Regions from separate parts of the Homo sapiens genome. Here regions 1 and 3 are each linked to region 2. Evidence: fine-mapped expression QTL. A gene starts in region 2. Each other region holds a variant in brackets. All regions are shown on one strand. Distances are between the middles of the regions.

Evidence for each region. PIP is the estimated chance that this variant, and not a neighbour inherited with it, causes the effect.
Region 1: its variant is the best candidate, but not a certain one, in a credible set for the expression of CTTN in lung (TOPMed, PIP 0.70).
Region 3: its variant is the best candidate, but not a certain one, in a credible set for the expression of CTTN in whole blood (INTERVAL, PIP 0.77).

The regions. Positions count from the first base shown.
Region 1 is chr11:70,323,364-70,331,536 of GRCh38, forward strand. It overlaps PPFIA1 (PPFI scaffold protein A1), which reads left to right. Exons shown (of 28, transcript NM_003626.5): 3 at 1,039-1,140; 4 at 1,484-1,648; 5 at 2,137-2,211; 6 at 2,899-3,000; 7 at 3,234-3,455; 8 at 6,810-6,956. LOC105369373 (a long non-coding RNA gene) reads right to left here and starts at 3,891. Exons shown (of 2, transcript NR_188532.1): 1 at 3,737-3,891; 2 at 1,445-1,764. RefSeq lists a silencer at 6,009-6,145. The variant G/A (reference allele first, on the strand shown) is at 4,135.
Region 2 is chr11:70,394,111-70,402,283 of GRCh38, forward strand. CTTN (cortactin) reads left to right here and starts at 4,419. Exons shown (of 18, transcript NM_005231.4): 1 at 4,419-4,504. It overlaps CTTN-DT (CTTN divergent transcript), which reads right to left and starts at 4,352. Exons shown (of 3, transcript NR_186321.1): 1 at 3,988-4,352. RefSeq lists silencers at 2,749-2,937, 4,035-4,084, 4,185-4,694, 5,276-5,345 and enhancers at 3,715-3,784, 6,633-6,927.
Region 3 is chr11:70,499,016-70,507,188 of GRCh38, forward strand. It overlaps SHANK2 (SH3 and multiple ankyrin repeat domains 2), which reads right to left. Exons shown (of 26, transcript NM_012309.5): 18 at 3,781-3,916; 19 at 3,191-3,271; 20 at 2,908-2,916; 21 at 1,555-1,575. Among named protein-coding and RNA genes, the nearest start is that of CTTN, 100 kb to the left of the region's middle. RefSeq lists a silencer at 1,661-1,820 and an enhancer at 6,487-6,986. The variant A/G (reference allele first, on the strand shown) is at 4,656.

The DNA of each region.
Region 1 (8,173 bases), 71 kb before region 2:
TGATCAGGACCCCCAGTATTCTCAGCCTGCCACACTCAAAGTTGAGCCTCCATTCCAGAATGGAGGCTGGACAGAGGTAGGAAGGCCCACTTTGCCCATGACTCCACTAGCCAGGATGCAGCATCAGCACCACGTAGCTGGGGTGGGGTGGAACTGGGGGAGAGGGCACTACATTATCAGCTGCAGCAGTCTGGAACAGAGTCGCTGCCTCACTGACCTGGAAAGGGGAGGCAGGGAGCAGTCTTGGTTCAAATACAACAGACTCTGGCCTTTCTTACTGAATTTTCAGTTGTTTGCTGTGAACCCTTAGAACGATCTCCAGAGTCTCAGAACAGTTGTTTTCTTACAATGTTCACCTGTTTTCCTTGGGAGCAAGCAGGTCAGTGGAGCTTCTTGTGCTGTCATGCTAGAAGTTGATTACCCACAGTAGGGATTCTTGCAGAAGAAATATTACTTTAGAAGAGAGGCTGGGCACGGTGGCTCAAGCCTGTGGTCTCAGCTACTTGGGAGGGTCACTTGAGCTCTGGAGGTCAAAACTGCAGTGAGCCATGGTCACACCATTGCACTCTAGCCTGGGTGACACAATGAGACCCTGTCTCAGAAAGAAAAAGGAAGAAAAGGAGGCTAGGACAGGGGTGGTGGCCTTCTAGGCCATCTTTCCTCTCTCTCCAGCAACTCTAGATCACATGTCTGTGAGTCATTTAAAATGTCTTCATTCAGTTCATGTCAGGATCCTGTTCAGGAAAATGTTTTGGACTTCTCTGGCTGCTGAGAAGGTGGACTTGGATTCCCCTTCTTTCCCTGCTGTCCTTGTCCCAGGGTGCAGGGATAGAGGGAAGTCAGATGGTCTGTCAGTGTTGTGATTTGTTAGGGAATCTGTGTGGTCCATTGATGCCCTCTTTCTCTGGAGGATCACTGAGATCCCTTCCCCATAACTTGTAATGAGGTTGCCTTTGTGTGAAGACTGTGGAGCCTTGATGAAAGGCTTTCTTTAGGGGGTCTTTCTTATTTATTTAATTTTGTTTTGTGATTTTCTAGGAGTTCGCAGCACTTACTAAAGAACTCAATGTATGCAGGGAACAGCTCCTTGAAAGGGAAGAAGAAATTGCTGAACTGAAAGCAGAAAGGAATAACACCAGGGTGAGTGTGACCTTTCTGTTCACTGCCTGCCCCTGGAGCCACTGTCAGGAGGAGGGGCGGTGTGTCAAAACGAAAGGACGACCCACTCTGTCTGGCCTGAAATACTTTTCATACCTTTTCCCACTGAGCAGACTGTGATTAGTCAGCATGATCACACATTAATGGCTTGAAATTTGTGATGAGAATTTATGATATTTTAATACAATTGAGAGGAATTTGTTTTTCTGCGGAATTGAAGGGACTTCATTTTAGTATGAGACTGTAAAGGAGTTATTTGCCCCAGATTCAATCATGAAATTAAAAATGCTGTTTAACAAGTCTTTATTTTGGCCTTTTATTTCAGCTGCTGTTAGAGCATTTGGAATGCCTTGTCTCCAGGCATGAGCGGTCTCTTAGGATGACCGTGGTGAAGAGACAAGCGCAGTCTCCAGCAGGCGTGTCCAGCGAAGTGGAAGTGCTGAAAGCACTGAAGTCCTTATTTGAACACCACAAAGCTCTGGATGAAAAGGTGCCATCAGCCACATAAGTCTTGGTTTGTGCACATGCTGTGTATTAGGCCAGCTTCACAAGTGTTGGTGTAACTTTTGTTTTTTGAAGCTTCTTGAATTCTTGGAAATAACTTCTCTAAGAAGACAGGGTTTTGTAGGTTTAAAAAGTACTAATTGGCTTAAATGTCTTAAAATTACTAATGTATATTGATTTGCTGTTACAAATTGGGTAGTATTAGGTTGTTGCAAAAGTAATTGTGGGCAAAACCTGCAATTACTTTTGCAACAACCTGATATTTCGGGGGAAGATTTATTTTTCTGAAACTTAATTTAGAGCCATTAACAAGTTTTCTTGACAGTAAGATCAATGACAGACATTAATGGTATTTTATTATGTTATATTACACTAATATATACATTAAGTGTATATATTACACTTAACTATATATTAAGAATAAAATAAACAGTATACACACACACACACAAACTCAACCCCTTTTATTTTCAGGTGAGAGAGCGATTACGAGTAGCACTTGAAAGATGTAGTTTGTTAGAAGAGGAATTAGGTGCCACACACAAAGAGGTAAGCTTGAGACTTCATCATGAGTTGAATTGGGGGGGGGTTATTTTTATCCTTTAATTATTAAAAGCAGCATAAGGCCAGACGTGGTGGCTCACACCTGTCATCCCAGCACTTTGGGAGACCGAGGCGGGCGGATCACCTGAGGTCAGGAGTTCCAAGACCAGCCTGACCAACATGGTGAAACCCCATTTCTACTAAAAATACAAAAATTAGCCAGGAGTTGTGGCATGTTCCTTTAGTCCCAGCTGCTCGGGAGGCTGAGACATGAGAATTGCTTGAGCCCAGGAGGTGGAGGTTGCAATGAGCTGAGATTGCACCATTGCACTCCAGCCTGGGTGACAGAGCAAGACTCTGTCTCCAAAAAAAAAAAAAAAAAGTAAAAGAAGTATAAGGACTGTAGTTGTACATATCACATGTTACTTATCTTCCCAATTGAGGACCAGCCTATCTGAGTCATTTTAAGGACTACAAAATGATGGTTACCTAAGGACTCGTCTGGCCAGTGGATAATAAATTCCATCTTCAATGATCTGGTTATTTTCGGATTGGGTAGCATTGCCATATGCTTTCTCTTTTATACTATGTTAAGCAGTTTTTAGTTGTGTTTTTCCAAAAGGAGTTTTGCTATCTTTACTTATTTCTCTTATGTAAGGTATTTTACACTCATATTCAATTTTTTGCTTTCAGCTAATGATTCTTAAAGAACAGAATAATCAGAAAAAAACTCTAACAGATGGAGTGCTGGACATAAACCATGAACAAGAAAATACACCAAGCACGAGTGGAAAGGCAAGTCTGTAGGCTTTGTCTTTATTCTGTTTGATTTCATTTGTTCACAGTATGTGTCGGGTTATGTGGAAAACAGTTGCTAAAGTACCGGCTTAGAGCTGAAGTGGTCATGAAAGTTGTGTAATCCAACAGATTGCATAAGTCAGTTTTGATTTTAGCTATTTCCTGGAAGTATTTTTATTTTATAGCTCACCAAACAAGGGTATTTAAGGATTTTTTTTTCCCCCTATCAGAGATCTTCTGATGGTTCTTTAAGCCACGAGGAAGACCTTGCTAAAGTAATTGAGCTCCAAGAAATCATAAGTAAGCAGTCAAGGGAACAGAGCCAAATGAAAGAACGCCTGGCTTCCCTTTCCAGTCATGTGACAGAACTGGAAGAGGATCTGGACACGGCTAGAAAAGATCTCATCAAATCTGAAGAAATGAACACAAAATTGCAACGAGATGTCCGTGAAGTGAGCAATAACAAAAACTACAGTCTTGTCATGAAGTTGTATGTTTGGGACGTTTTAGTTAAATGATTTTTTTTCTCTGTTTGTCTCTTACTCTCCCAATTACTTTCAACCTTTGGATTATTGTATAAGTTATATTGAAAAAGAGAGAGTGCTGTGAAACTGCCATAAGCTACCTCCCCATTTTTGTTGTGAAATCTCCTGTCCCTGAGCTCTTCAAAGTAGAGAACTAGTCCCACTGACTGACATGGCCATGAAGTGGACGCCACACTGGCCTCTCCTACCTGTGCTGCTTTAATATTCTTTAATGTCCTTGTTTGTAGATTCTTCATCTGTGCAATTTCTAGGCTGTCTTAATTTGTTCTTATGTTCAGATTGCCTTCTGTTGCACACATACTTAGCAAGCAGATATTGATACTGGCTGTGCTAGCTCACGTAGGGCAATGTGAGTATAGTCTCTTAACTGTGGGAGGGGGCGTTGCTGGCGGTCTTCTCATTTTCTGACCTGCTCCTTCAAGGAATTTGTGGCGTTGAATATTAATGGTCAAACAATCAAGAGTGGAATTTGCTTCTACATGGGTCATCAGGATCGTATAGCAAAAATATGTCACAATATACTCATTGCTGACAAATATTTCTGCCATTATAACTGTGAGAAACTATTTGATCATGAATGCCGGGC[G/A]TGGTGGCTCACGCCTGTAATCCCAGCACTTTGGGAGGCTTAGGCGGGCGGATCACGAGGTCAGGAGATCGAGACCATCCTGGCTAACACGGTGAAACCCCGTCTCTACTAAAAAATACAAAAAAATTAGCCAGGCGTGGTGGCGGGCGCCTGTAGTCCCAGCTACTCGGGAGGCTGAGGCAGGAGAATGGCGTGAGCCCAGGAGGCAGAGCTTTCAGTAAGCCGAGATCGGGACACTGCACTCCAGCCTGGGCGGCAGAGCGAGACTCCGTCTCAAAAAAAAAAAAGAGAGAAACTATTTGATCATGAAACAGTGAGGCTGAGTGCTTTCTCAGGTGCCCTTCCTGTCACTTTCTAACCTGCGCTTTGTCCCTTGTCAGGCGCCTCAACCGTTGAATGTCTGCTTTTCAGTTTGGTAGTTTGACGTTGAGTAATTTCATGTAGGAATTCACCACAGGAAGAACATTTGCATGTAGTATGTCACCTAAGGTTCTATTCTTTGGCTACAGCAGGAGATTATGTGGCAGAGATTAATATGCAGAGAATTTTGAAATTCTTTTAAGACCTATCACTTTTATTTTTTAATTTTTTATTTTAACTTTTAAGTTTGGGGTACACGTGTAGGTCTGTTACATAAGTAAACTTGTGTCCTGGCGGTTTGTTTTACAAATTATTTCATCACCCAGGTACCAAGCCTAGTTATTTTTCCTGATCCTCTTCTTCCTCCTATCCTCCACCCTCCACCCTTTGATAGGCCCCAGTGTGTGTTGTTCCCCTCTGTCTGTCCCTGTGTTCTCATCAGTTAGCTCCCACTTATAAGTGAGAACATGAGGTATTTTGTTTTTCTGTTTCTGTGTTTGCTAAAGATAATGGCCGCCAGCTCCATCCATGTCTCTGCAAAGGACATGATCTCATTCTGTTTTATGGCTGCATAGTATTCCATGGTGTATACGTACCACATTTTCTTTATGGAGTCTATCATTGATGGGCATTTAGGTTGATTCCTTGTCTTTGCTGTTGTGAATAGTGCTGCAGTGAACATACGTGTGCGTGTGTCTTTATAATACAACGATTTATATTCCTTTGGGTATATACCCCGTAATGGGATTTCTGGGTTGGTATTTCCATCTTTAGGTCTTTGAGGAATCTCCACACTGTCTTCCACGATGGTTGAACTAATTTACCCTCCCACCAAGAGCAGGAAAACATTCCTTTTTCTCCACAACCTCACCAGCATCTGTTACTGATTGACTTTTCCACAATAGCCATTCTGACTGGTGTGAGATGCTGTCTCATTGTGGTTTTGATTGGCATTTGTCTAATCGGTGATGTTGAGCTTTTTTCCCCTATCACTTGTAATATTTAGACTTTGCTAACTTTAGTCATTTTATAAATAGGGAACAACTTGAAAATAGTGAATTCTGGGGGTGGAGGACAGGTATTTCTCAAGCAAAAAGTTCTGGTCCTAGCCTTAAGTGTTTGAAACTGTATAGTAATCATCTTGTAGACTTCAGGTAGTTGCATCCAATTAAATTAAACTGGTACTTCTGTTTCCATTTGTCAATATGCTTGAGTCTTGTAATTGTATGAGAGTTCATCCAACCCTTATCCTAGAAAGTGAGACTTGTATCTCACTACTGTGTCCACTGAGAGAGGCCGCACCCTGTCCTGTGTGAGACCATTTGTAGCGTGAGGCAGACGTAGACTGCGTCTTCTTTGAGGACACTTTCACCTCCTTGAAAAATATTTAGATATTTGAGTGTATATATTTTTATAATATTATGTAGAAACAGGAAAGCTTGGTCAACTGAGTGGCCAGACATAGTATTAAGAGAGACAAGTCTTTGTTAATCGTATAGGTGAATATTTATGGTATTTGAGGTAGTTACATTTTCATTCACATTTGAGAAAATTGACATCTTCATCAATTTAATTTTGAGGACATTATTATTTATTTATTTATTTTTGAGACAGGATCTCTCTCTGTTACCCAGGCTGGAGTGCAGTGGCGCCATCATAGCTCACTGCAGCCTTGAACTGCTGGACTCGAGCAATCCTCCTGTCTCAGACTCCCAAGTACCTGGGACTACAGGGGCGTGCCACCATGCGTGGCTAATTTTTGTTTCTTTAAAATGTTTTTGGCCAGGGACACTGGCTCACGCCTGTAATCCTAACACTTTGGGAGGCCAAAGGAAGGCCAAGGAGGATCTCTTGAGCCCAGGAAACTCAAGACCAGCCTGGGCGATATAGTAAGACCTCTATTTCTACAAAAAATTAAAAATTAGTTGGATATAGGAGTGTGCGCTTGTAGTCCCAGCTACTGGGAAGATTGAGGTGGAAGGATCCCTTGAGCCTGGGAAGTCAAGGCTGTGGTGAGCCTTGATTGCACCACAGCATTCCATCCTAGGTGATAGAGGGAGACTCTGACTCAAAAAACAAAATAAAATATTTTTGTAGAGACAAGGTCTTGAACTCCTTGCCTGAAGCCATCCTCCCGCCTTAGCCTCCCAAAGTGCTGTGATTATAGGAGTGAGCTGCTGTATCTGGCCTGAGGATGCTAATTTTTAATTTGATTGGAAATTTGGGATTTACTTCAGTTTTTTTCTCTCTTAAGTATCTTAATGTGTAATCGTTAATTACCTACTTTTTTGTCCCCTCTGAAATACCTAATTTAGGCCATGGCCCAAAAGGAAGATATGGAAGAGAGAATCACTACTCTTGAAAAACGCTACCTCGCTGCACAGCGTGAAGCCACATCTGTGCATGACCTCAATGATAAACTTGAAAATGAAATTGCAAATAAAGATTCTATGCATCGACAGGTAATGGATTTTATCGACCTTTGTCTGGCTTTAGTTAATTATTAATGAAGTTAAAGACCCTTTTTCTCTCACTTTCATGTTGGAAATCAAGTCCAAATATCAAGTTTTTATGACCTTAGAATATTATGTTCAAGACATGTGGGAGTTCCTTCAGTTTAGAGGTTTTGATTACGTAGGATTTGATTTAACCAATTTTGTCCTCAGTTTTTTCTTTTGTTGTAATTGAAAGTTAATCTATTGCTTGTTAGCATTTTTACCAAAGGAGCAGAGAGTGGCAAAGAACTTCAAGGCAATTGGCTATTTGTAACTAAGTGGGAGCACTATGATACATGAATAGTATGACAAATGAAGTCTTGGTCGGATGCGGTGGCTCATGCCTGTCATTCTAACACTTCGGGAGGCTGAGGTGGGAAGATCGCTTGAGCCCAGGAATGTGAGAACAGCCTGTCTCTACAGAAAATTAATAAATTAGCCGGGCATGGTGGCATGTGCCTTTAGCCCTAGCTACTCAGGAGGCTAAGGAGGGAGGATGACTTGAGCCCTGGAGTTCAAGGCTTCATTGTGCTATGATTGTGCCACTGGACTCCAGCCTGGGCCACAGAACGAGACCCCGTCTCTAAAATAAAAAATGCGGCCAGGCGCGGTGGCTCACACCTGTAATCCCAGCACTTTGGGAGGCCGAGGCAGGTGGATCATGAGGTCAGGCATTTGAGACCAGCCTGACCAACATGGTGAAACTGCGTCTCTACTAAAAATACAAAAATTAGCTGGGCTTGGTGGCGCGCATCTGTAATCCCAGCTGCTACTCAGGAGGCTGAGGCAGGAGAATCGCTTGAACCCAAGAGGCGGAGGTTGCAGTGAGCCGAGATTGTGCCACTGCACTCCAGCCTGGGTGACACAGCTAGACTCCGTCTCAAAAAAAAAAAAAAGGCAGTGAAGTCTGTAGTAAGAAATTGGGTCTCCTGTGGTTTCGTAAACCATACTTATTCTTGTAATTACGAGTATCACTGTATTCCAGCCTGGGTGACAGAGCAAGACTCTGTCTTTAAACAAACAAAAAAAAAGCTTCTTAAAAGTTATTTAGGAAAAGCAAACACTTTGACAAGAGGTGTTTTGCACATTGAAACCAAGACCAGGAAAGTGGGCATGTACTCCTGGCAGCAAGAAAACCTTACCCAGGCCGGGCACAGTGGCGCACACCTGTAATCCCACCACTT
Region 2 (8,173 bases):
AGAGTCTCCAAAAGGAACAAGCCCCACTGACACCTTGACTTTAGCCCATGAAACTGATTTCAGACTCTGGCTTCCAGAGCTGAAGAGCATATATTTGCATTGTTTTGAGGCACTGAGTCTGTCATAATGTGTTGCAGCAGCCTAGGAAGCTGGTCCACGGTAGGAGGCAGCCCCGGGGAGGAATGATGGTCCAGGCTCAGAAGCCATGCATGTCACCTCCCCTCATGTTCCATGGGCGAGAACCTGGCCACATGGCAGCTCCCAACTCCAAGGGAAGCTGGGAAATGTAGTAGAGCTGGACACCCACATGTCCACTTAGTACCGAGGAGGGTGGGGGCGCTGGGTGGACAGCTACATCTCCGTCACACGTGTTGTATTGAGTCCTACAGCCCTGCGTGGTGGTGCAAATGCCCCAGGTCCCATCTGCACTCTAAGTCAGGGACTGGTTTGCTCAGGTCCTGGACATAAGGCTGTCTGGACATCCCTCTTTGGCTGCATGGGTTTTTAAAATTTTTCTTTATTTTTATTTTTTTGAGACAGGTTCACACCATGTTGCTCCAGCTGGTCTTGCACTCCTGGGCTCAAGTGATTCCTCCCACCTCGGCCTCCCCAAGTAGCTGGGACCACTGGTGCGCCCCTGGCTGCGTGCTTCTTTTACAAGCGTGGGTGACCCAGGCCCAGCAGCTTTGCAGTTGCAGGCCCACTCAGCACTTTGCATTTCTCTTCATTTCTGGCTCACAGAGATATCACTTTTGTTTTGTTTTGTTTTGTTTTTTTGATAGAGTCCCGCTGTGTCTCCCAGGCTGGAGTGCAATGGCGCGATCTCAGCTCACTGCAACCTTCACCTCCCGGGTTTGAGCGATTATCCTGCCTCAGCCTCCCAAGTAGCTGGGATTACAGGCGCCTGCCACCATGCCTGGCTTATTTTTGTATTTTTATTAGAGACGGGGTTTCACCAGGTTGGTCAGGATAGTCTCGGACTCCTGACCTCAAGTGATCCACCTGCATCGGCCTCCCAAAGTGCTGGGATTACAGGCGTGAGCAACCACGCCCAGCCACCAGTTTTGTTTTTGTTTTTGTTTTTATTTTTTGAATTTTAGTAGAGATGGGGCTTCACCATGCTGGCCAGGCTGGTCTCAAATTCCTAACCTCAAGAAATCCGTCTGCCTTGGCCTCCCAAAGTGCCGGGATTATAGGCATGAGCCACGGCGCCCGGCTTCGACCTATTTTTGAGCACAGCTATACTTCTTGCTTTGCAAATTTTACACTGTATGTGTAATTCCTGTGGCCAGCCTCAGTCTCTGCCACACATTCTCCTGGGGAGCACAATGGGCATGTGGAAGAGTGTGCTGCCCCTTTCTCTCTGGGAGCCACTCTGAAGCACCCTGCTCTTCACCGGCAGCAGACTGGTCTTTCTAAGCCACGAACGCTGCCCTCCTGCTGAAAAGTCTGCAGTGAGCTTTGTCTTTCCTTCTCTGTAAAATTAGCCCAGCTAATTTTTGTACTTTAATTTTAGAGACGGGGTTTCACCATGTTGGCCAGGCTGGTCTTGAACTCCTGACCTCAGGTGATCCACCTGCCTTGGCCTCCCAAAGTGCTGGGATTACAGGCATGAGCCACCGCGCCTGGCTGCTATATTTTCTTTACATGTTTTCTTGAATAAAATACATTTTCTTCAACCTAAAAGTTCATTTTTCCAATTTTAATAGAAATAAGAACATTTCCGTGGGCGCCCAAAGATATGTCCACAGCCTAATCCTCAGCACCTATGACTATGACCTCTTATGGCAAAAGGTGTGACACAGTGAGGGACTTGAGAGGAGGGGTTTGTGCTGGATCAATACAGTCACAGGGCTCCCTCTGAGATGGACACCACCGGCTATGCCTGCTTTTTTGACTAGATGATTTCATACCTCTGTAGAGGCAGAAATTAACCTTTAAAAAACAGGCAGCAATGTGGCCTGGCAATGTGGTGGCTCACACATGTAATCCCAGTGCAGGAGGGTCACTTGAGCACAGGAGTTCGAGACCAGCATTAGCAACACAGCAGGACCCAGTATCTACAAAAATATTAAAAAATTAGAGGCCGGGCATGGTGGCTCACGCCTGTAATCCCAGCACTTTGGGAGGCCGAGGCGGGAGGATCACCTGAGGTCGGGAGTTCGAGACCAGCCTGACCAACATGGAGAAACCCTGTCTCTACTGAAAATACAAAATTAGCCAGGCAAAGTGACGCACGCCTGTAATCCCAGCTACTCGGGAGGCTGAGGCAGGAGAATTGCTTGAACCCGAGAGGCAGAGGTTGCAGTGAGCTGAGATGGCGCCATTGCACTCCAGCCTGGGCAACAAGAGGGGAACTCCATCTCAAAAAAAAAAAAATTAGCTGAGTGTGGTGGCACGTGCCTGTAGTTCCAGCTACAGCTACTTGGGAGGCTGAGGTGGGAGGATCACTTGAGCCCAGGAGATCGAGGCTGCAGTGAGCCTTGATTGCACCACTGCACTCCAGCCCCTGTCTCTAAAGATTAAACAAACAAACAAAAAAAAACAGTCAGCAATGTAAAAAAAAAAATTTTTTTTTTCAGAGATGGGGTCTATATTGCCCAGGCTGGTCTTGAACTCCTGGGCTCAAGCAATCCTCTGGCCTTGCCGCTCAAAGTGCTGGTATTACAAGCCTGGCCAACAATCCTTGTGCACAGAAAATGCAAATTAGCTGTGTCCAGTTAAATGCAATTGACCTTTGCACTAGAGATAGAGCAGTTTTTGCAAATTCATTTCAGCATTCGTCTTCCGTTTTTTTTTTTTTTGACACAGGGTTTCTGTTGCCCGTGCCGGAGCGGTCCTTTTGCCTCAGCCTCCAGAATAGCTGGGACCACAGGTAAACGTCACCATGCCTGGCTAATTTTTTTCTTAAAAAAAATTTTTTTTTTTTGGTAGAGACAGGGTCTTGCCATGCTGCCCAGGCTGGTCTCAAATTCCTGACCTCCAGCAATCCTCCTGCCTTGGCCTCCCAAAGTGTTGGGATTACAGGCGCGAGGCACTGCATCTGGCCAAATTCTTTAAACAATTTGTAACAACTTATGATGTATTCATTATCGAGTTAAATAAAATATTTGACGTGTTCATTTTATATGTGTATGAAGGTCATGATTTTACCTTTAAAAAAATGGTCAACACCTGACATTTCCTTCCGCCACCCGCACTTCCAATTCATCCTCACATCTGACAGTTTAGCTTTCTAAATGCCTCTTGCATCTATCCACTTCTCCCCATCTTACCTGCCACCAGCGGTCTGCCCGAATTGGCTACATTAGGCTCTACCTGGCCCTTCTCCCATCCATCTTCCACACAGCAGCCAGAGTGATCTCATTACAATTCAAACTTCATTATGTCTTATTTATTTATTTAGCGATGGCGGGCGGGGGCGAGGGTCTCACTATGCTGACCAGGCTGGTCTCGAACTCCTGGCCTTAGGCGATCCTCCCATGTCAGCCTCCCAAAGTGTTATGATTACAGGCGTGGGCCACTGCGCCTGGCCCAAACTTCATGATGTCTCTTATCAGCTTAACTTCCTCCGAGGACTTCCCGTGTCTCCCAGAATAAAGACCGAGGTCTTCGCTGTGCTCTATCGGCCTCTGCATGACCTGGCCCCTCTCACACCACAGCTCCGCTGCACCACTAGCCCTCTACCATGCTGAGCTGAGCCTCCTCCAGTTCCCCTGCTGCAAGACCGTTCCTGCCTTGGGACCTCTGTTGGCCCTGCTGTTGGAACCTGCTGTTGGCCTGCCTGGAAAATTCTTCCCTCCTTACCTTGTTTACTCTTATAGGGCCTTCACATCTTGGCTAACATGTGAATCGCCCAAAGAAACCTCTGGTCTCCCAGGGGTTCAGGTCCTACCGTCTCCCCAATACGATGTTATGAAACTCTCACTTCTTGGCATTTATCTCATTTCCCAGGTGAGTACCCATGTGGTTTAACGCTTGACTCACCTTCTAGGCTGCTATGTCCCTGTGGCCGGGGCTCGCGTCCCTGGCACGCATGTGGCCCTTTCTTGGAGGGGAGGTGCATGGTGAGCGGACGAGGACGGCTGAGGGCGCGCGCGGAGGGAGGATGGAGAGATGAAGAGGCTCCCCGCTCCCGGACTCAGGGCACGTGCGTCTCCTCGGCTGGCTTCCTTCCCCCGGCCCCGGGCAGCGCCGCGGATCCTGAGACCCCGCCGCGGGCTGTGTGCTGCTCAGCGCCCATCCTCTGCGCGCGCAACGCTACTTCCGGGCGAGCTCTGCAGACTCGCCACAGGCCGGGCTAGCGCTTAGCCAGCTGCGGGCGGACCCCCGGGACTCTTGCGGGCCAAGACGCGGGAGGAGGCGGGGCAGGGGGCGGGGTCGCGCGGGGACCCGGATGCGGCCCCGCCCCCGCCCTCGGAACCGGAAGTAGAGCCTGGTGCCTGGGAGCGGCTGGCGCGGCGGAATCCAGGGCCGACCCGGGCCGGACCGACCCCAGGCGGCGGTGAGCGAGCGCGGCGTCCGCCCGGGGTGCAGGCCGGGCTCTGCTTCTTCCCTCCTGTGGCGTCGCCTGGCCGCGAAAGGGGAAGGAAGCGGCGGCCGCAGCGGTCTCACCGCTCTTCCGCTTGCGGTTTCGGGGGCCGGGGCAGAGTGGCGAGGCTTTCCCGGCCTGGGGCGGGGCAGGGCGAGGGCCGGGGGTCCGCGAGGGCCACGAGGACGGGTCTGGGCCCAAGGAGGCCGGGCAGGGGGCAAGGGGGCACGGAGGGCTTGGGGCTGGGGTCCGCGGAGGAAGGTTAGAAAGGGGCCAAATTGGGGTATCAGCTCTGAGGGGAGGGTCCCTGGGCGCCGGGGGGCTCCAGGGCAGGAGAGGGGCCAGGCTGGGAGGGGTCTTGGGTCCGAGGGAATAGGAGAGGGGGATGGGCTCCGAGGGGGAGGGTATTAGGGCCCGAGGGAGAGGGGCTGGGCCTGTGGGGTTCGGGGGTCTGAGCGGAGGGGGCCGGGGTTCGAGGGGCCAAGGAAGGTGGGTGTGGGGGGTCTCAAGGAAAGGGCGAGGGGTCTGAGAGGGAGGTGTCTGGGTGCAGAGGGAAAGGGATGAGGTCCGAGGGGAGGAGATTGGGGTCTGACGGGAAGGGGTCCAGGCGCAGAGCTACTGGGATGGGGTCCGAGGGAAGGGAATTGGGGTTCGAGGGGAAGGGGTCGGGGCTCGGAGGAAAGGTATAGGGTCCGAGGGGAGGGGATTGGGGCTCCAGGGGAAGGGATCCAGGCGCAGGGAAAAGGGATGGGGTCCGCGGGGTCAAGGCGGTTGGGGTGCGCGACTTTGAGGGGCTCGCTGTGGGACGTGGCGGAGCAGCTGGGGATCCGCCCGGCCTGCACCTGAGCGGAGGTTTTGCAATCAGGTCAGTGGAGGCAGCGAGGCGCGGCTGCAGCTAGTCGTGAGGCTCTAAATTTGGAACCGTCCCTCCTTCGGGGTGTGTTTAAAATCACCAGAACGGTGCTTTGGGGCTTTCTGTTACGTTTCCATCACCTGGATAGTCTAAGGGATGCCTGATCCCTGAAGCTGGAAGGCCTTGGGTGAGAAGGGACAGGGCTTCCTCCCGCTGGAATCTGTGGACGTTTGGGGCCCCTTGGGGAGGAATTCATTTTCTGCTGAAGGAAGCTCCGGAGGCATCCGGTGAGCGCTCCCTGGAATCCCATGCGCTCCCTTTGGGCTCAGTGTTGACTTGGCTGCGCAGGCTCTGTCGGGGGGACTTCACCCACTAGGTCCTTCAGGCATGATCCAGCCCTCAAGCCCGGCCGGGCCCAAGGCCGTGGCGCAGGAGGGGCTGGCCGCCTGCCCCTGTCTCCATTCACGTGTTTGACCGTGTGGGTGAGTCACTGGCTCCAGAGCACTGAGTCAGTCCTGTTTCTCCTCTGGTTAGAGAAGTATTCGCCAGATACTCAAGGAACAAGGAAGAGTCTTTTAAGTGGGACTCAATAAAAAGTTGGGGAGGCAGGGTTGTTTTGATATTAGGTCCCCTAGAACTAGAAGCTAACCTTCTGCTATATCTTACTGAAAAGAAATTTCTTTTGACCTGGGGCAGGGGTGCGGTGGCTCACACCTGTAATCCCTGCACTTTGGGAGGTCAAGGTGAGAGGATCGTTTGAGGCCAGGAGTTCCAGACTAGCCTGGGCAACACAGGGAGACCTTGTGTCTACAAAAAAAGAAATTCGCTGGGCATGTTGGCTTGCACCTGTTGTCCTAGCTACTTGGGGCGCTGAGGCAGAGGATCTCAAGCCCAGGAGTTGGAGGCTGCATTGAGCTCGATCGCACCACTGTACTCCAGCCTGGGTGACAGAGCGAGACCCTGTCACCCAGGCTGGAGTGCAGAGGCTCTTCACAGGTGCCATCTAGCACACTGCAACCTTGAACTGCTGGCCTTAAGCGATCCTCCCACCTCAGCCTCCCAAGTAGCTGGGACTGCAGGCCCAGCTAAAGCTGACTTTTAATTGTAGCATTTTGATGGACTTGTTTTTAAAACACTTTTAAAATGACAGCACACATAATCGGCAATTCAGATCTTCAGTCTGTGCCACGCAGTAGGTGCTCAGAAAAGGTGTCCTGAGAGTGTGAATTGCTGTGAGCGCTGGTTGCTGCCTTGTGTTGCAGTATTCCCATGGCCTGGGCCAGCCAAGAGCAGGGGACTGTGCTCCAGGAGCAGGCTTGGCTTTCACTGTGGCCCAGGCCCACCCCATCTGCTCACGCACTGCTTTGAGTAAACGGAGTAAATGTTGGGGGCGGGGTTTCCCTTGAGTAAGTGTGGTGTAGGGAGTGTGCCTGTGATGGTGATTTTGGCTACGCAAGTGTCTGTTTCCTTTCTCCTCCTGCTCTGCCATAGATGCTGAGGCTAATGGAAAGCTGATGGTGGACGGATGGTTCTGTCCTGTCATTTAAAACATTCTTCTGCCAGGCTCGGTGGCTCACACCTGTAATCTCAGCACTTTGGGAGGCTAAGGGCAGGTGGATTGCTTGAGCCCAGGAGTTTCGAGATCAGCCTAGGCAACATGGGGAAACCCCATCTCTGTTAAAAATAGAAAAATTGGCCGGGTATGGTGGCTCACACCTGTAATCCCAGCACTTTGGGAGGCTGAGGTGGGCAGATCACGAGGTCAGGAGATTGACACCATCCTGGCTAACACAGTGAAACACCGTCTCTACTAAAAAAAAAAATACAAAAAATTAGCCGGGCGTGGTGGTATATGCCTGTAGTCCCAGCCACTCAGGAGGCTGAGGCACCAGAATCGCTTGAACCTGCGAAGTGGAGGTTGCAGTGAGCCGAGATCACACTATTGCACTCCAGCCTGGGCAAAAGACTGAGACTCCATCTCAAAAGAAAAAAGAAAAAGAAAAATTAGCTGGGTGTAGTGACAGGTGCCTGTAGTCCCAGCTACTCAGGAGGGTGAGGCAGGAGAATCGCTTGAACCCAGGAGGCAGAGGTTGCGGTGAGCTGAGATCACACCATTGCACTCCAGCCTGGGCAACAGAGTGAGACTTCGTCTCAAACAAAAAAAAACAAAAAAAAAAAGAGAGAGAAAAATCAGCTTGGTGTGGTGGTGCATTCCTGTAGTCCTAGCTACTCGGGAGGCTGAGGTGGGAGGATCACCTGAACCTGGGACACAGAGGTTGCAGTGAGCTGAGATTGTGCCTCTGCACTCTAGCCTGGGCCACAGTGCAAGACCCTGTCTCAGAAAAAAAAAAGAAAAAAAAGGCTGGTGGGGGGCTTTTAGGCGCGGTGGTTCGTGCCTGTAATCCCAGCACTTTGAGAGGCTGAGGCTGGCAAATCACTTGAGGCCAGGAGTTGGAGATCAGCCTGGACCAACATAATGAAACCCCATCTCTACTAAAAATACAAAAAATTAGCTGGGTGTGATGGCGCATGCCTGTAATCCCAGCTACTCGGGAAGCTGAGGCAGGAAAATCACTTGAACCTGGGAGACAGAGGTTGCAGTGAGCCGAGATCGCGCTGTTGCACTCCAACCTAGGCAACAGAGCAAGACTGTCTGAAAAAGAAAAAAAAAGTTATTGTGTAGAGGAATTTTTCACTCTGTCTAGACAGCAAGATTACTTCACGTTTGTGCAATCTTGATTTGTACACTGACGTTTGCAAGGAAGGTTTAATGTTGAGGATGGACAGAG
Region 3 (8,173 bases), 100 kb after region 2:
TGTTCCACATGGCCTTTCTGGAGTGTGACGAGTGCTTTTTCCGAGGCGAGGCCAGTCCTCCCAGAGACAGGTGGAGGCAGCACGAGGGGCCTGGAGCATTTGCCGTGCATCCACTATGTGCCCCGCACTTCGCATGTGCGCCATGGGATGCCCTCATGGCCCTAGAGGCAGGGGCTGTCAGCAACGCTCGGTGTCTTCAGTCCCCAGCTGGATCCCCCAGTGTGACCAGGCTGGGCCACGGCTGCTGGTCCCTTTGGGGTCTTCCTGCCCACACCCTTGCCCCCTGTTATATCTGGGGTTGAGGCTCTGGAAGCTCAAATTTGTAGCCAGTTTCTCTTGCTCAGACGGGAGGTGGATCTTCTGATGCCACCCTGGGGGAGGAGGGTGGTGTGGATGGGGCCAGGTCCCAGCAGGCCACAGGCGCCCACGGTGGCTCAGCCACCTGAGTCCCGAACTGTTCTCCCTGACAAGGGACTTCTGTTGTCCCACGCTGTTCTGGCAACTGGGTCCCTGGCAGCCATGGTGGGGCATCTTCCTCAGTTAGGTGATGAATAGAGGGCCATTCCCGTGAGCTGGGGTTTGGCCTTGGATTGAAGGGGTGTTCACACACAAACGTAATTGCACGACATAGAAAGAAGGGTATTCTGTACCCCGGGTGTCCACCACATCCTCGGCGCAGCAGTGGGGCCTAGAAAGCCCGCTGGGAGTTTTCTGGGCAGCTGTAGGATGCTGGTGCAAGCCCGGGGCTGCTGCAGAGAGGCCGCTGGGATGACACAGGTCGGGACAGTGGTGGTTCTGTGCCCACCTCACCCAATCTCATCTAACATGATTGGGACAGAGTTAAGATGTGCCTTAGGGCCAGGTGCTAGGCTCCTCCCAACTCCAAGGGATTAATTAAAAGCTGGGAGTGCTGCTTTTAATTGTTGGGGGAGCTGTGTCCAGCAGCAGGCGAGCAATACCCCCCGATGTGCTTGCTGCTGTGAAAGGGGGAACCTGAGTCTATCTGGGGCCTGCGGTCCGGCTGCCCACAGCCACAGTGACTGCCAGTCTCCCACTCCACACCAGCCCTGGGTGGGGAGGTGTAGCCAAAGGGCTCACACTGCTCCCTTCTCCTTCTAGTGCCCCACAGGGCACAGGGCAGCCTCTTGGGGAATGGGTGATTTCCGGGCCTTAAAGGGAGGCAGTTCCTGCCCACCACAAAGGGGTCCTGAGGGTCAGGAATGCAGCCAGAGGCTCTGCTCATCTGCAACCCCCCATCCAGGCAGCCCCAGCTGAGACCAAACAGGGGTCCGGCCAGCTTCACGGTCATGACGATGTGAACACAGGTCAGGGAAGAAACACAGGACACGCTGGGGAATCACAGACAGAAGCCAAGCAGAAAGAACAGACAGATGAATGTGCTCCAGGGCGGCAGGGCTCCTCGGGCAGGACCCAGCAGGAGAAGCCAACAAGGCTTTGCGACACATTTGAGACTTCACGGCATCACAAAGGATGTTTCTGTTCCACAGGGGGGTGATGGGCAGGGGGCTGAGACAGACACTGGGCCTCCCTTACCCTTCTTCTTCCGGACCGAGGCTTGCAAACAGAAAGGGGACCGCCATGAGCCACCAGGATGCAGCGCCCGCCCGCAGCCTACACTCGGGCCTTGTCAGCTCAGGGCGCCTCAGGAGCAGGCTGGGCCGGCAATGGGGCGGCAGGCAGGGGCTGTCTGGAACGCTGCGAACGCAGGCTGCGCTATCCATGGAGTGGCTTTCCCCAAACCTTGGCTGCCCGCACAACTCTGTCCTGTCTGCCCTGCTCGTTAACCTACTGCCTGGCAGTGGAAAGGGGCTTTCCTTCTTCCTCAGCACCCCTTGTCCCACCAGCACCCTGCCAAAGTAGGGAGGAGTTCTCAGAGCAGACATGAGCAGAGGTGGCGGGGCCAGCCTTTAGAGTGCACCTGTGGCCTTTCCTGCCTCATTCTGTTGTTTCTTGACTGAGCTGAGCTCTCAGGAGCACCCCTTGCAAAGATGAGAGCTGCTAGGCTTGTCCCTCTGGGGAGCCCCAGGACAGGCCTCTGTGGAGAGGGCCTGGAGGCTGGTCACCTCCTCCGTCGCCTGTGAGGCTGGGGCACGCGGGGCACTACTGGTTCTGGGTGGGTGGGGCAGCGCCACTGCAGGGCTGCTGTTTTGGACTGAGGCCTCATGCCCATCCTCAGACTCTAGCCCCAGAACCTCGTGAGAAGCGGCCTGGCCGGCCTCAGCGCCCTGGGCCGAGGAAGGATGACATCACTGCTGTGGCAGCACTTAGCACTTGCTAGACTCCTCTCGGGAAAGCTGCCTGTGCCAGAGTGCAGGGAGGACGGGGCCTGTGAGTGAGAGCACCAGCCAGGGCTTGGCTCTCAACCCCCCAGGCCAGCTGGACTGGACCGTGGGCCTTGGGCGGGGGCTCGTTTCTGCGCCCATGTAAGCTGCCTTCACCAGCTCCAATTTGTGCTCCAGTGGAGCAAGCGTTTCCACCTACATGCCATCTCTGTGTGTTTCAGAGCCACCCTCTTTCCAAAGGTGTCCCTGGCTCCATGGTGACTCCCCGGAACAAACAGGATCCTGCATGGCCAGCATGGCCCACGTGGCTGCTAGTCGCCCTTCCCCTGCCTACAAGATGGAGTCAGAGGGCCAGAGCCTCTCTCTGTTGCTTGCAGACCTTACACAAAGGTGCCGGGCGTTCCCTAAGCCTGCTGTGCAGACCAGACTGCTCTGCCAAGCCCACGCTATCTACACACAGATCCCCGGAGGATGGAGCCTTCTGGTCTGAGCCACGTGGGGAGCAGCTCACACAGGCCTCCGAGGCCTGGGCTGAGGTGGATGTCAGTGGGGGTGCCCTAGACAGCAGGGGGAGCTGCTTTGGGGACCCAGTGGGGCTGCTTACCTTTATCCACTAGTGAGAGGCCCAAAAATTCAAAACAAAACAATGTTAGATAAACAGAAAAGAGGAAAGGCAGGACTAGCAACAACGCCCCGCGAGGCTCCGAGGGAGGTGCACACATGGGGCTGCGGGGCATGCAGGGGCATTTCCTGATGCACGTCTGGGTACAGGGGCAGGAGGGGGGTAGCGAGCAAGCGTGGGGTCATGCACAGCCTGGTGCTTTGCAAAGGGCAGCTCAGGGACCGGCATGGTGACTGTACAGGGCTGGGCCGGGTGTGCGACTTACCGAGCTCCTCCAGCTCCGAGGTCATGGACTTGGAGCGCAGGGTGAGGGCTGTGGTCGGTGCCCGCTTTGGAGGCGGGGGAGCTGGAGGGCAGAGGAGAGATGGGTGTGAGACCCCAGCCCATGTTTCCAGATATGGGAATAAGGCTAGCAGTGGCCCTGTGGCTGGCAGGTGGGTCTCAGGCTGTTTGGCTGCGGTGGTCAGGGATTGTGCAGGTGTGCTTATGATGGGAAAGGACAGGTGCTCAGGAGGATCTTGCCATATCCCTGAACTGCAGTGCAGGCCCTCATGGGTGGGCCTGGGCAGGGGGAGGGAGGGGACAGGGCACTGAGTGGGAAGCCTGCGGAAGGGACGCCTGCTAGTGACTAAAAGGGCACTCCTGGTGGGACATGGATGATTCCGGCAGCGTGTGAGCCCCAAGTCATTGTCGTGGGCTCTGGCGGTAAATTCCAGCCTCACCCCTGTGCCTGGGCTCTCAGAAGTGTGGGATCAGCTGGAGAGAGGGCCCACTGCCCCCCAGCTGTCCTGCCCGCCCCCACCCCCCCCCCCCAGTAGGGCCCCAGGCTGGAGCTGGGCGATGTGGGGCATGTACCTTTCTTCCTGGCGGTGTCGTCGGGGTCCAGATTCCTGGTCACCGTGACCACCTTAAGGACCAGGTGATTCCCTCCCTGCCGGATCATGTTCACCACCTGCCTGTGGCCGACTTTGACAACATTCTCATTGTTAACCTGTGGGAAGGCGGAGAGGATGGCATCAGTGAGAGCCAGCGGAGAGGAAGACAGTTGGCACCCACCCAAGGCAGAGACATGTGGGCTCCTAAAAAGGGGGCAAATGCAGGGAAGCAAAGGGAGTGAGACCGTCATCTTTTTGGAAGCAAAGGTGCTTTTGGGGAAACCAGAATGAATGCTGCTGTGACTGTGGAGGTCACTTAACTGTGGCTCAGGAGGTTGGGGGAGGCCTTCCTCTGACACTGCAGCTCTCTGCTGAGTCCTCCACAGCTGCTGCAGAGGAAGGGCTGATTTCTATTTAACCTGAGCATCCTTAGGTGCTTACTTTTACAGGCCTGGGGCAATTTTCAGGGCCACCAAGAGACTGCATGTGAAGAGCCTGACAGGCGAGTTCCAGGGCTGGGCTGCAGTGCCAGGCTTTGCATCCTCACAGGAGGAGGAAACGTGGCGCTTAATTGCTTCTCATGTATTCTGGGAATGCACATCACACTGAAGCAGCCCCTTTCCTCCCACTCCCTCCCTCCCTGCTCTCCCGCTCCAGAGGCCTGGGAAGGCAGAAAAGCCTGGCCCAGCAGGGTGCTTACAAGAGTGGGGGCCCTGTCCCTGTGCTGGTCTGTACAACTAGCTGCCCCAGTGCTCCTGGGACGGTGAGTGGCAGGCTGGGGACCCCCAAGGCTGCCATGCTATGGCCACTGCCCTGCAGTTGAGGAACTCTTAGGAGCCGGTTACCTCCTGCCCT[A/G]TTTGTCCTCACCATGGCAAATGCACCTGACACGGAAGTAGGAACGGACTCAGGGTGCCATCCCCCTGGCCCCTCTGCTATTCTCACCTCCCTGAGCAATGCTCAGCAGCAGATGGCCTTGGCCTCTGCCTCCCAGCCCCACGCTACTCCCAGAGGAAAACCCGAGTGATGGAGACTGGAACTGGGTGGGCGTCTGGGCTGACACTGCCCACCCTGGCTACTGCAGGAGTAACACTTAGTGGTTTTCAAATGTTGCTGTGAAAAGGCCCCGGCCTCACCCCTGCCCATGGAACTGAGCTCCACAGGGGGCCTCTGGCACCTTCATCCCAGCAGCTCCTGAATGGGAGCGCAGCCCAGAGGCAGCTGTCTCTAGGTGGCAGCAGGGAGGGGGAAGCCCCAGAAGGTGAAGTTTACAGCTGCTTCACACGCCACCTTCGAACAAAGAAAAGCACCCTGATCGTAAACAACAGCCAAGACGTCATGCCCCTCACCAGCCACACTGTGCTGTACGCATATCCTCCTGCTATAGATTCTTCAAAAACTAAACATCTGGTATACCCACAAACAGAAAACTTAAAGCCTGTGTGCTGCTTGGTGGATTTTCACAAATCCAACATCCCTGTAAGAGCTGGATAGAAGCAGGTACTGCCTGGCTCACCATACTGTTGACAGGCCCAGTGCCTGGCTCCCCATACTGTTGACAGGCCCAGGATGTGCCAGTTTTGGTCACCTACGAGACGGCTGCAGAGGTCCTCCAGGCAGGGCTGCGAGGAGCCCAGGGAGGACTCAGTGGGGCCAGGGCAGTCCCCGTGCCAGCTGCTCTGCAGTCTCTGCTGTGGGACCGGCTCATTCCCATGTACTCAGACCCACCCGGTTTCAGCAGTGAGTATCCAGTGTCCTGGGTCCACTGGACAGCTGGTCACCCTGCACTGCCCTGAAGATAGAGTCTTGGGAGCAGGACTATCCTAATGGGGCCTTGGGAGAGAGGCCCACCTACAGCGGCAGCGGTCTTTGCAAGGTGACTCCTGGGGGCTGTTCCTTTCACTGAGGTTCTCAGAATGTAATTAGGAAAGCAGATGGATTTAGGAAGTAAAGGAGCCGGATCGAGGAAGACAGCACCGGGAGTTCTCGGAGGGCAGACCTCAGCTTGCAGGACCCTCGCTGCTCTGGTACAGACAGGCAACCGAACACCAGCCACGCGTTATCGGGTTCTCTCCCCTCCCATGAGCACACCCGGGTAGTGGCTGTTGCTCATTCATTCATTCATTCACTCATTCCAGTGTTTCTGTTCCCCGTACCACTAAAAGCCATGAGGCACAGGCAGTTCAGCTGTCTCTGCCTCCATCTGTGGGAAGTTTGCGTCCTCATCAGGGAGTTTTGGCCGACACACAAAGAAGTGAACACATAACTTCAGGTGGCTGAGTACCACCTAAGAAGGCAGAACCAAGTAAAAGGAGACTGAACAGAGGCCTGGACCCACCAGGAAAGAGCAGTGTGGGCGGAGTCATGGAGTGGGAATGGGCAAGGAAGCGGTAGGCAGGGGGGCGCAGAAAAGGCCAAGGCCTGAGAGCAGGGCCTTGGATGCCAGGGTGAAGTTATGGGCCAGGGAGTGCTGAGGCCCGATGCAGAGATGAGGCATCTGACCCGAGCAGCTGTGAGTATGAGGTGCCAAACACACGTGGGGGGGCACCGAGACACTGGGGTCTCAAGCTGAGATGGAGGAGGCAGGCTGCCCAGGCTCAGGAGCCGCGAGGCCAATGTGTGAGGCCTTGGTGAGAAGACCTGGCAGTAGGGAGCCCCCAGCTGCCTGGCCACTAGATCCCCAGGGGTCATCCCTTGCAAGGCTGTGGGGAGCGAGGGGAGGACTCGGCCCCACCTTGAGATGGGCTGGGACCAGCTTTCCTGCTCTGGGCGGGCCCCCAGTGCCGGGCCTTGAGGGGGCTCCAACCAAGAAAGTGCATATTACTGCCTGCTTGCTCCTGCCACCCGCTGTGGGGCATTCTCTGGATCTGATGCTTGGGGAGAGTACGAGACTGGCACGGGGATGGGCTGCCAGTCACTGGAGAAGCCAAGCTCAAGTTGCGGCCTCCTGAGGGCTCGTCGGGCTGATGGGGACTTTAACAGCCTGGCCACTTAGGCAGGGAGGGGCTGGGGATGTGGCCTCTGACTGCAGCCTGCTAACCATCACGGCCTTGGGCTCACTCCCTAGAATCCTCATCCTCCAGAATCTCCCGTGGTTCATTTGTGGTGGCTGGATGCTGTCCTTCTGTGATCTTGGCCAGAGCTGGCCCTTGGCCGCTTTGGGAGAAGCAGTTTGTTCCTGTGCCTTGGAAGGGTCAAGGGGCTGGAGGGCCCTTTTCCTCAGAAGTGTCAGAGACAGACATTACTCTTTTCTGGGCAGGGGAGGCAAAGGACCAAAGAAAGGCCTCTCGGGGAATGAGCCACTCATGGGGGATTCTCAGGAAGCTTGGCTGCGGGGCCAAGGACCTTGGCGGCCCCAGCACCTTCCTTGTCTGTAGCCGACAGCCTGGGTGCACGTTCTGGTGGCACCTCCACACACTCATGCTGCCCCAGCCAGAGCTGCTCCTGCACAGGGCCAGGCTGGCTGCCCAGATTTGATGTCTCATATCTGAGTCTGCAGAAGCTGCTGTTCCCACCCAACTCCTAATCAGGGCTCCCCAGTTCCTGATTCCATCCCCTGTACCCCTCGTAGACCTGCTGCCCTCAGCAGACTGCAGCAAATGGCAGGACCTGCTCAGGAGAGCTCAGAGGAAATGAGGCTCCCATGGGCCCTGGAAACATCACTTGGCCTTCTCTGAAAGCTGATGACAAAGAGGCATACAGGGCTTGCAGGGGTGGAGCTAGGTTTGGAATCAGTTGTTGGGCATCTGATGCCCCTCTGACGTCCAGAATCTGTCTCGCCCAGGTCTTTCGGGGTCATGAGCCACTTCCAAACAAAGTTGCTTTGGACGAGCTTCCCTGCAGTCCCAGCTCCACTTGGAGGGCCCTCCCTCCTGCTTCATGGAGGGATGGTATCCGGTGAGCCCTGGTCCTGGTGGGCCTGCACCCCTCCAGAATCAGCATATTATTGGGTCCGGAGCCTGTGGGGGCCCTGCTGCTTGCTGGGTGCCCGTGGGCAGGACACCTGCCTCTCTAGCGGGGTGTCCTCAGTAAACAGCATGGCTTCCTGCCCTGGCAAGCACTTGGGGGCAGGGAGGTGGTGCCAACAGGGCCTCAAACCATCCACACACATCCTAGGATGTTCCCTTTGGTCCCCATCCAGCGATTACCAAGGGTCAAATCCCACCCACACAGTGCCTCAGTCAGTTTTAACTTAGCTGTCACAATTTAAAGAGTATAAGACCTTTGCATAGAAAGTCTAGAATTTCAGTTTTCATTGAAAAATTAGAACCCTCGCACTTGGGGAGTTGGGCCTCCCACTTGCATGCGGCATCCTCCCCTGCTGTTAGCTGAGGCTGTGACTGCTGCTGTGCCCGCCCGCCCCAGCCTCCTGGGCC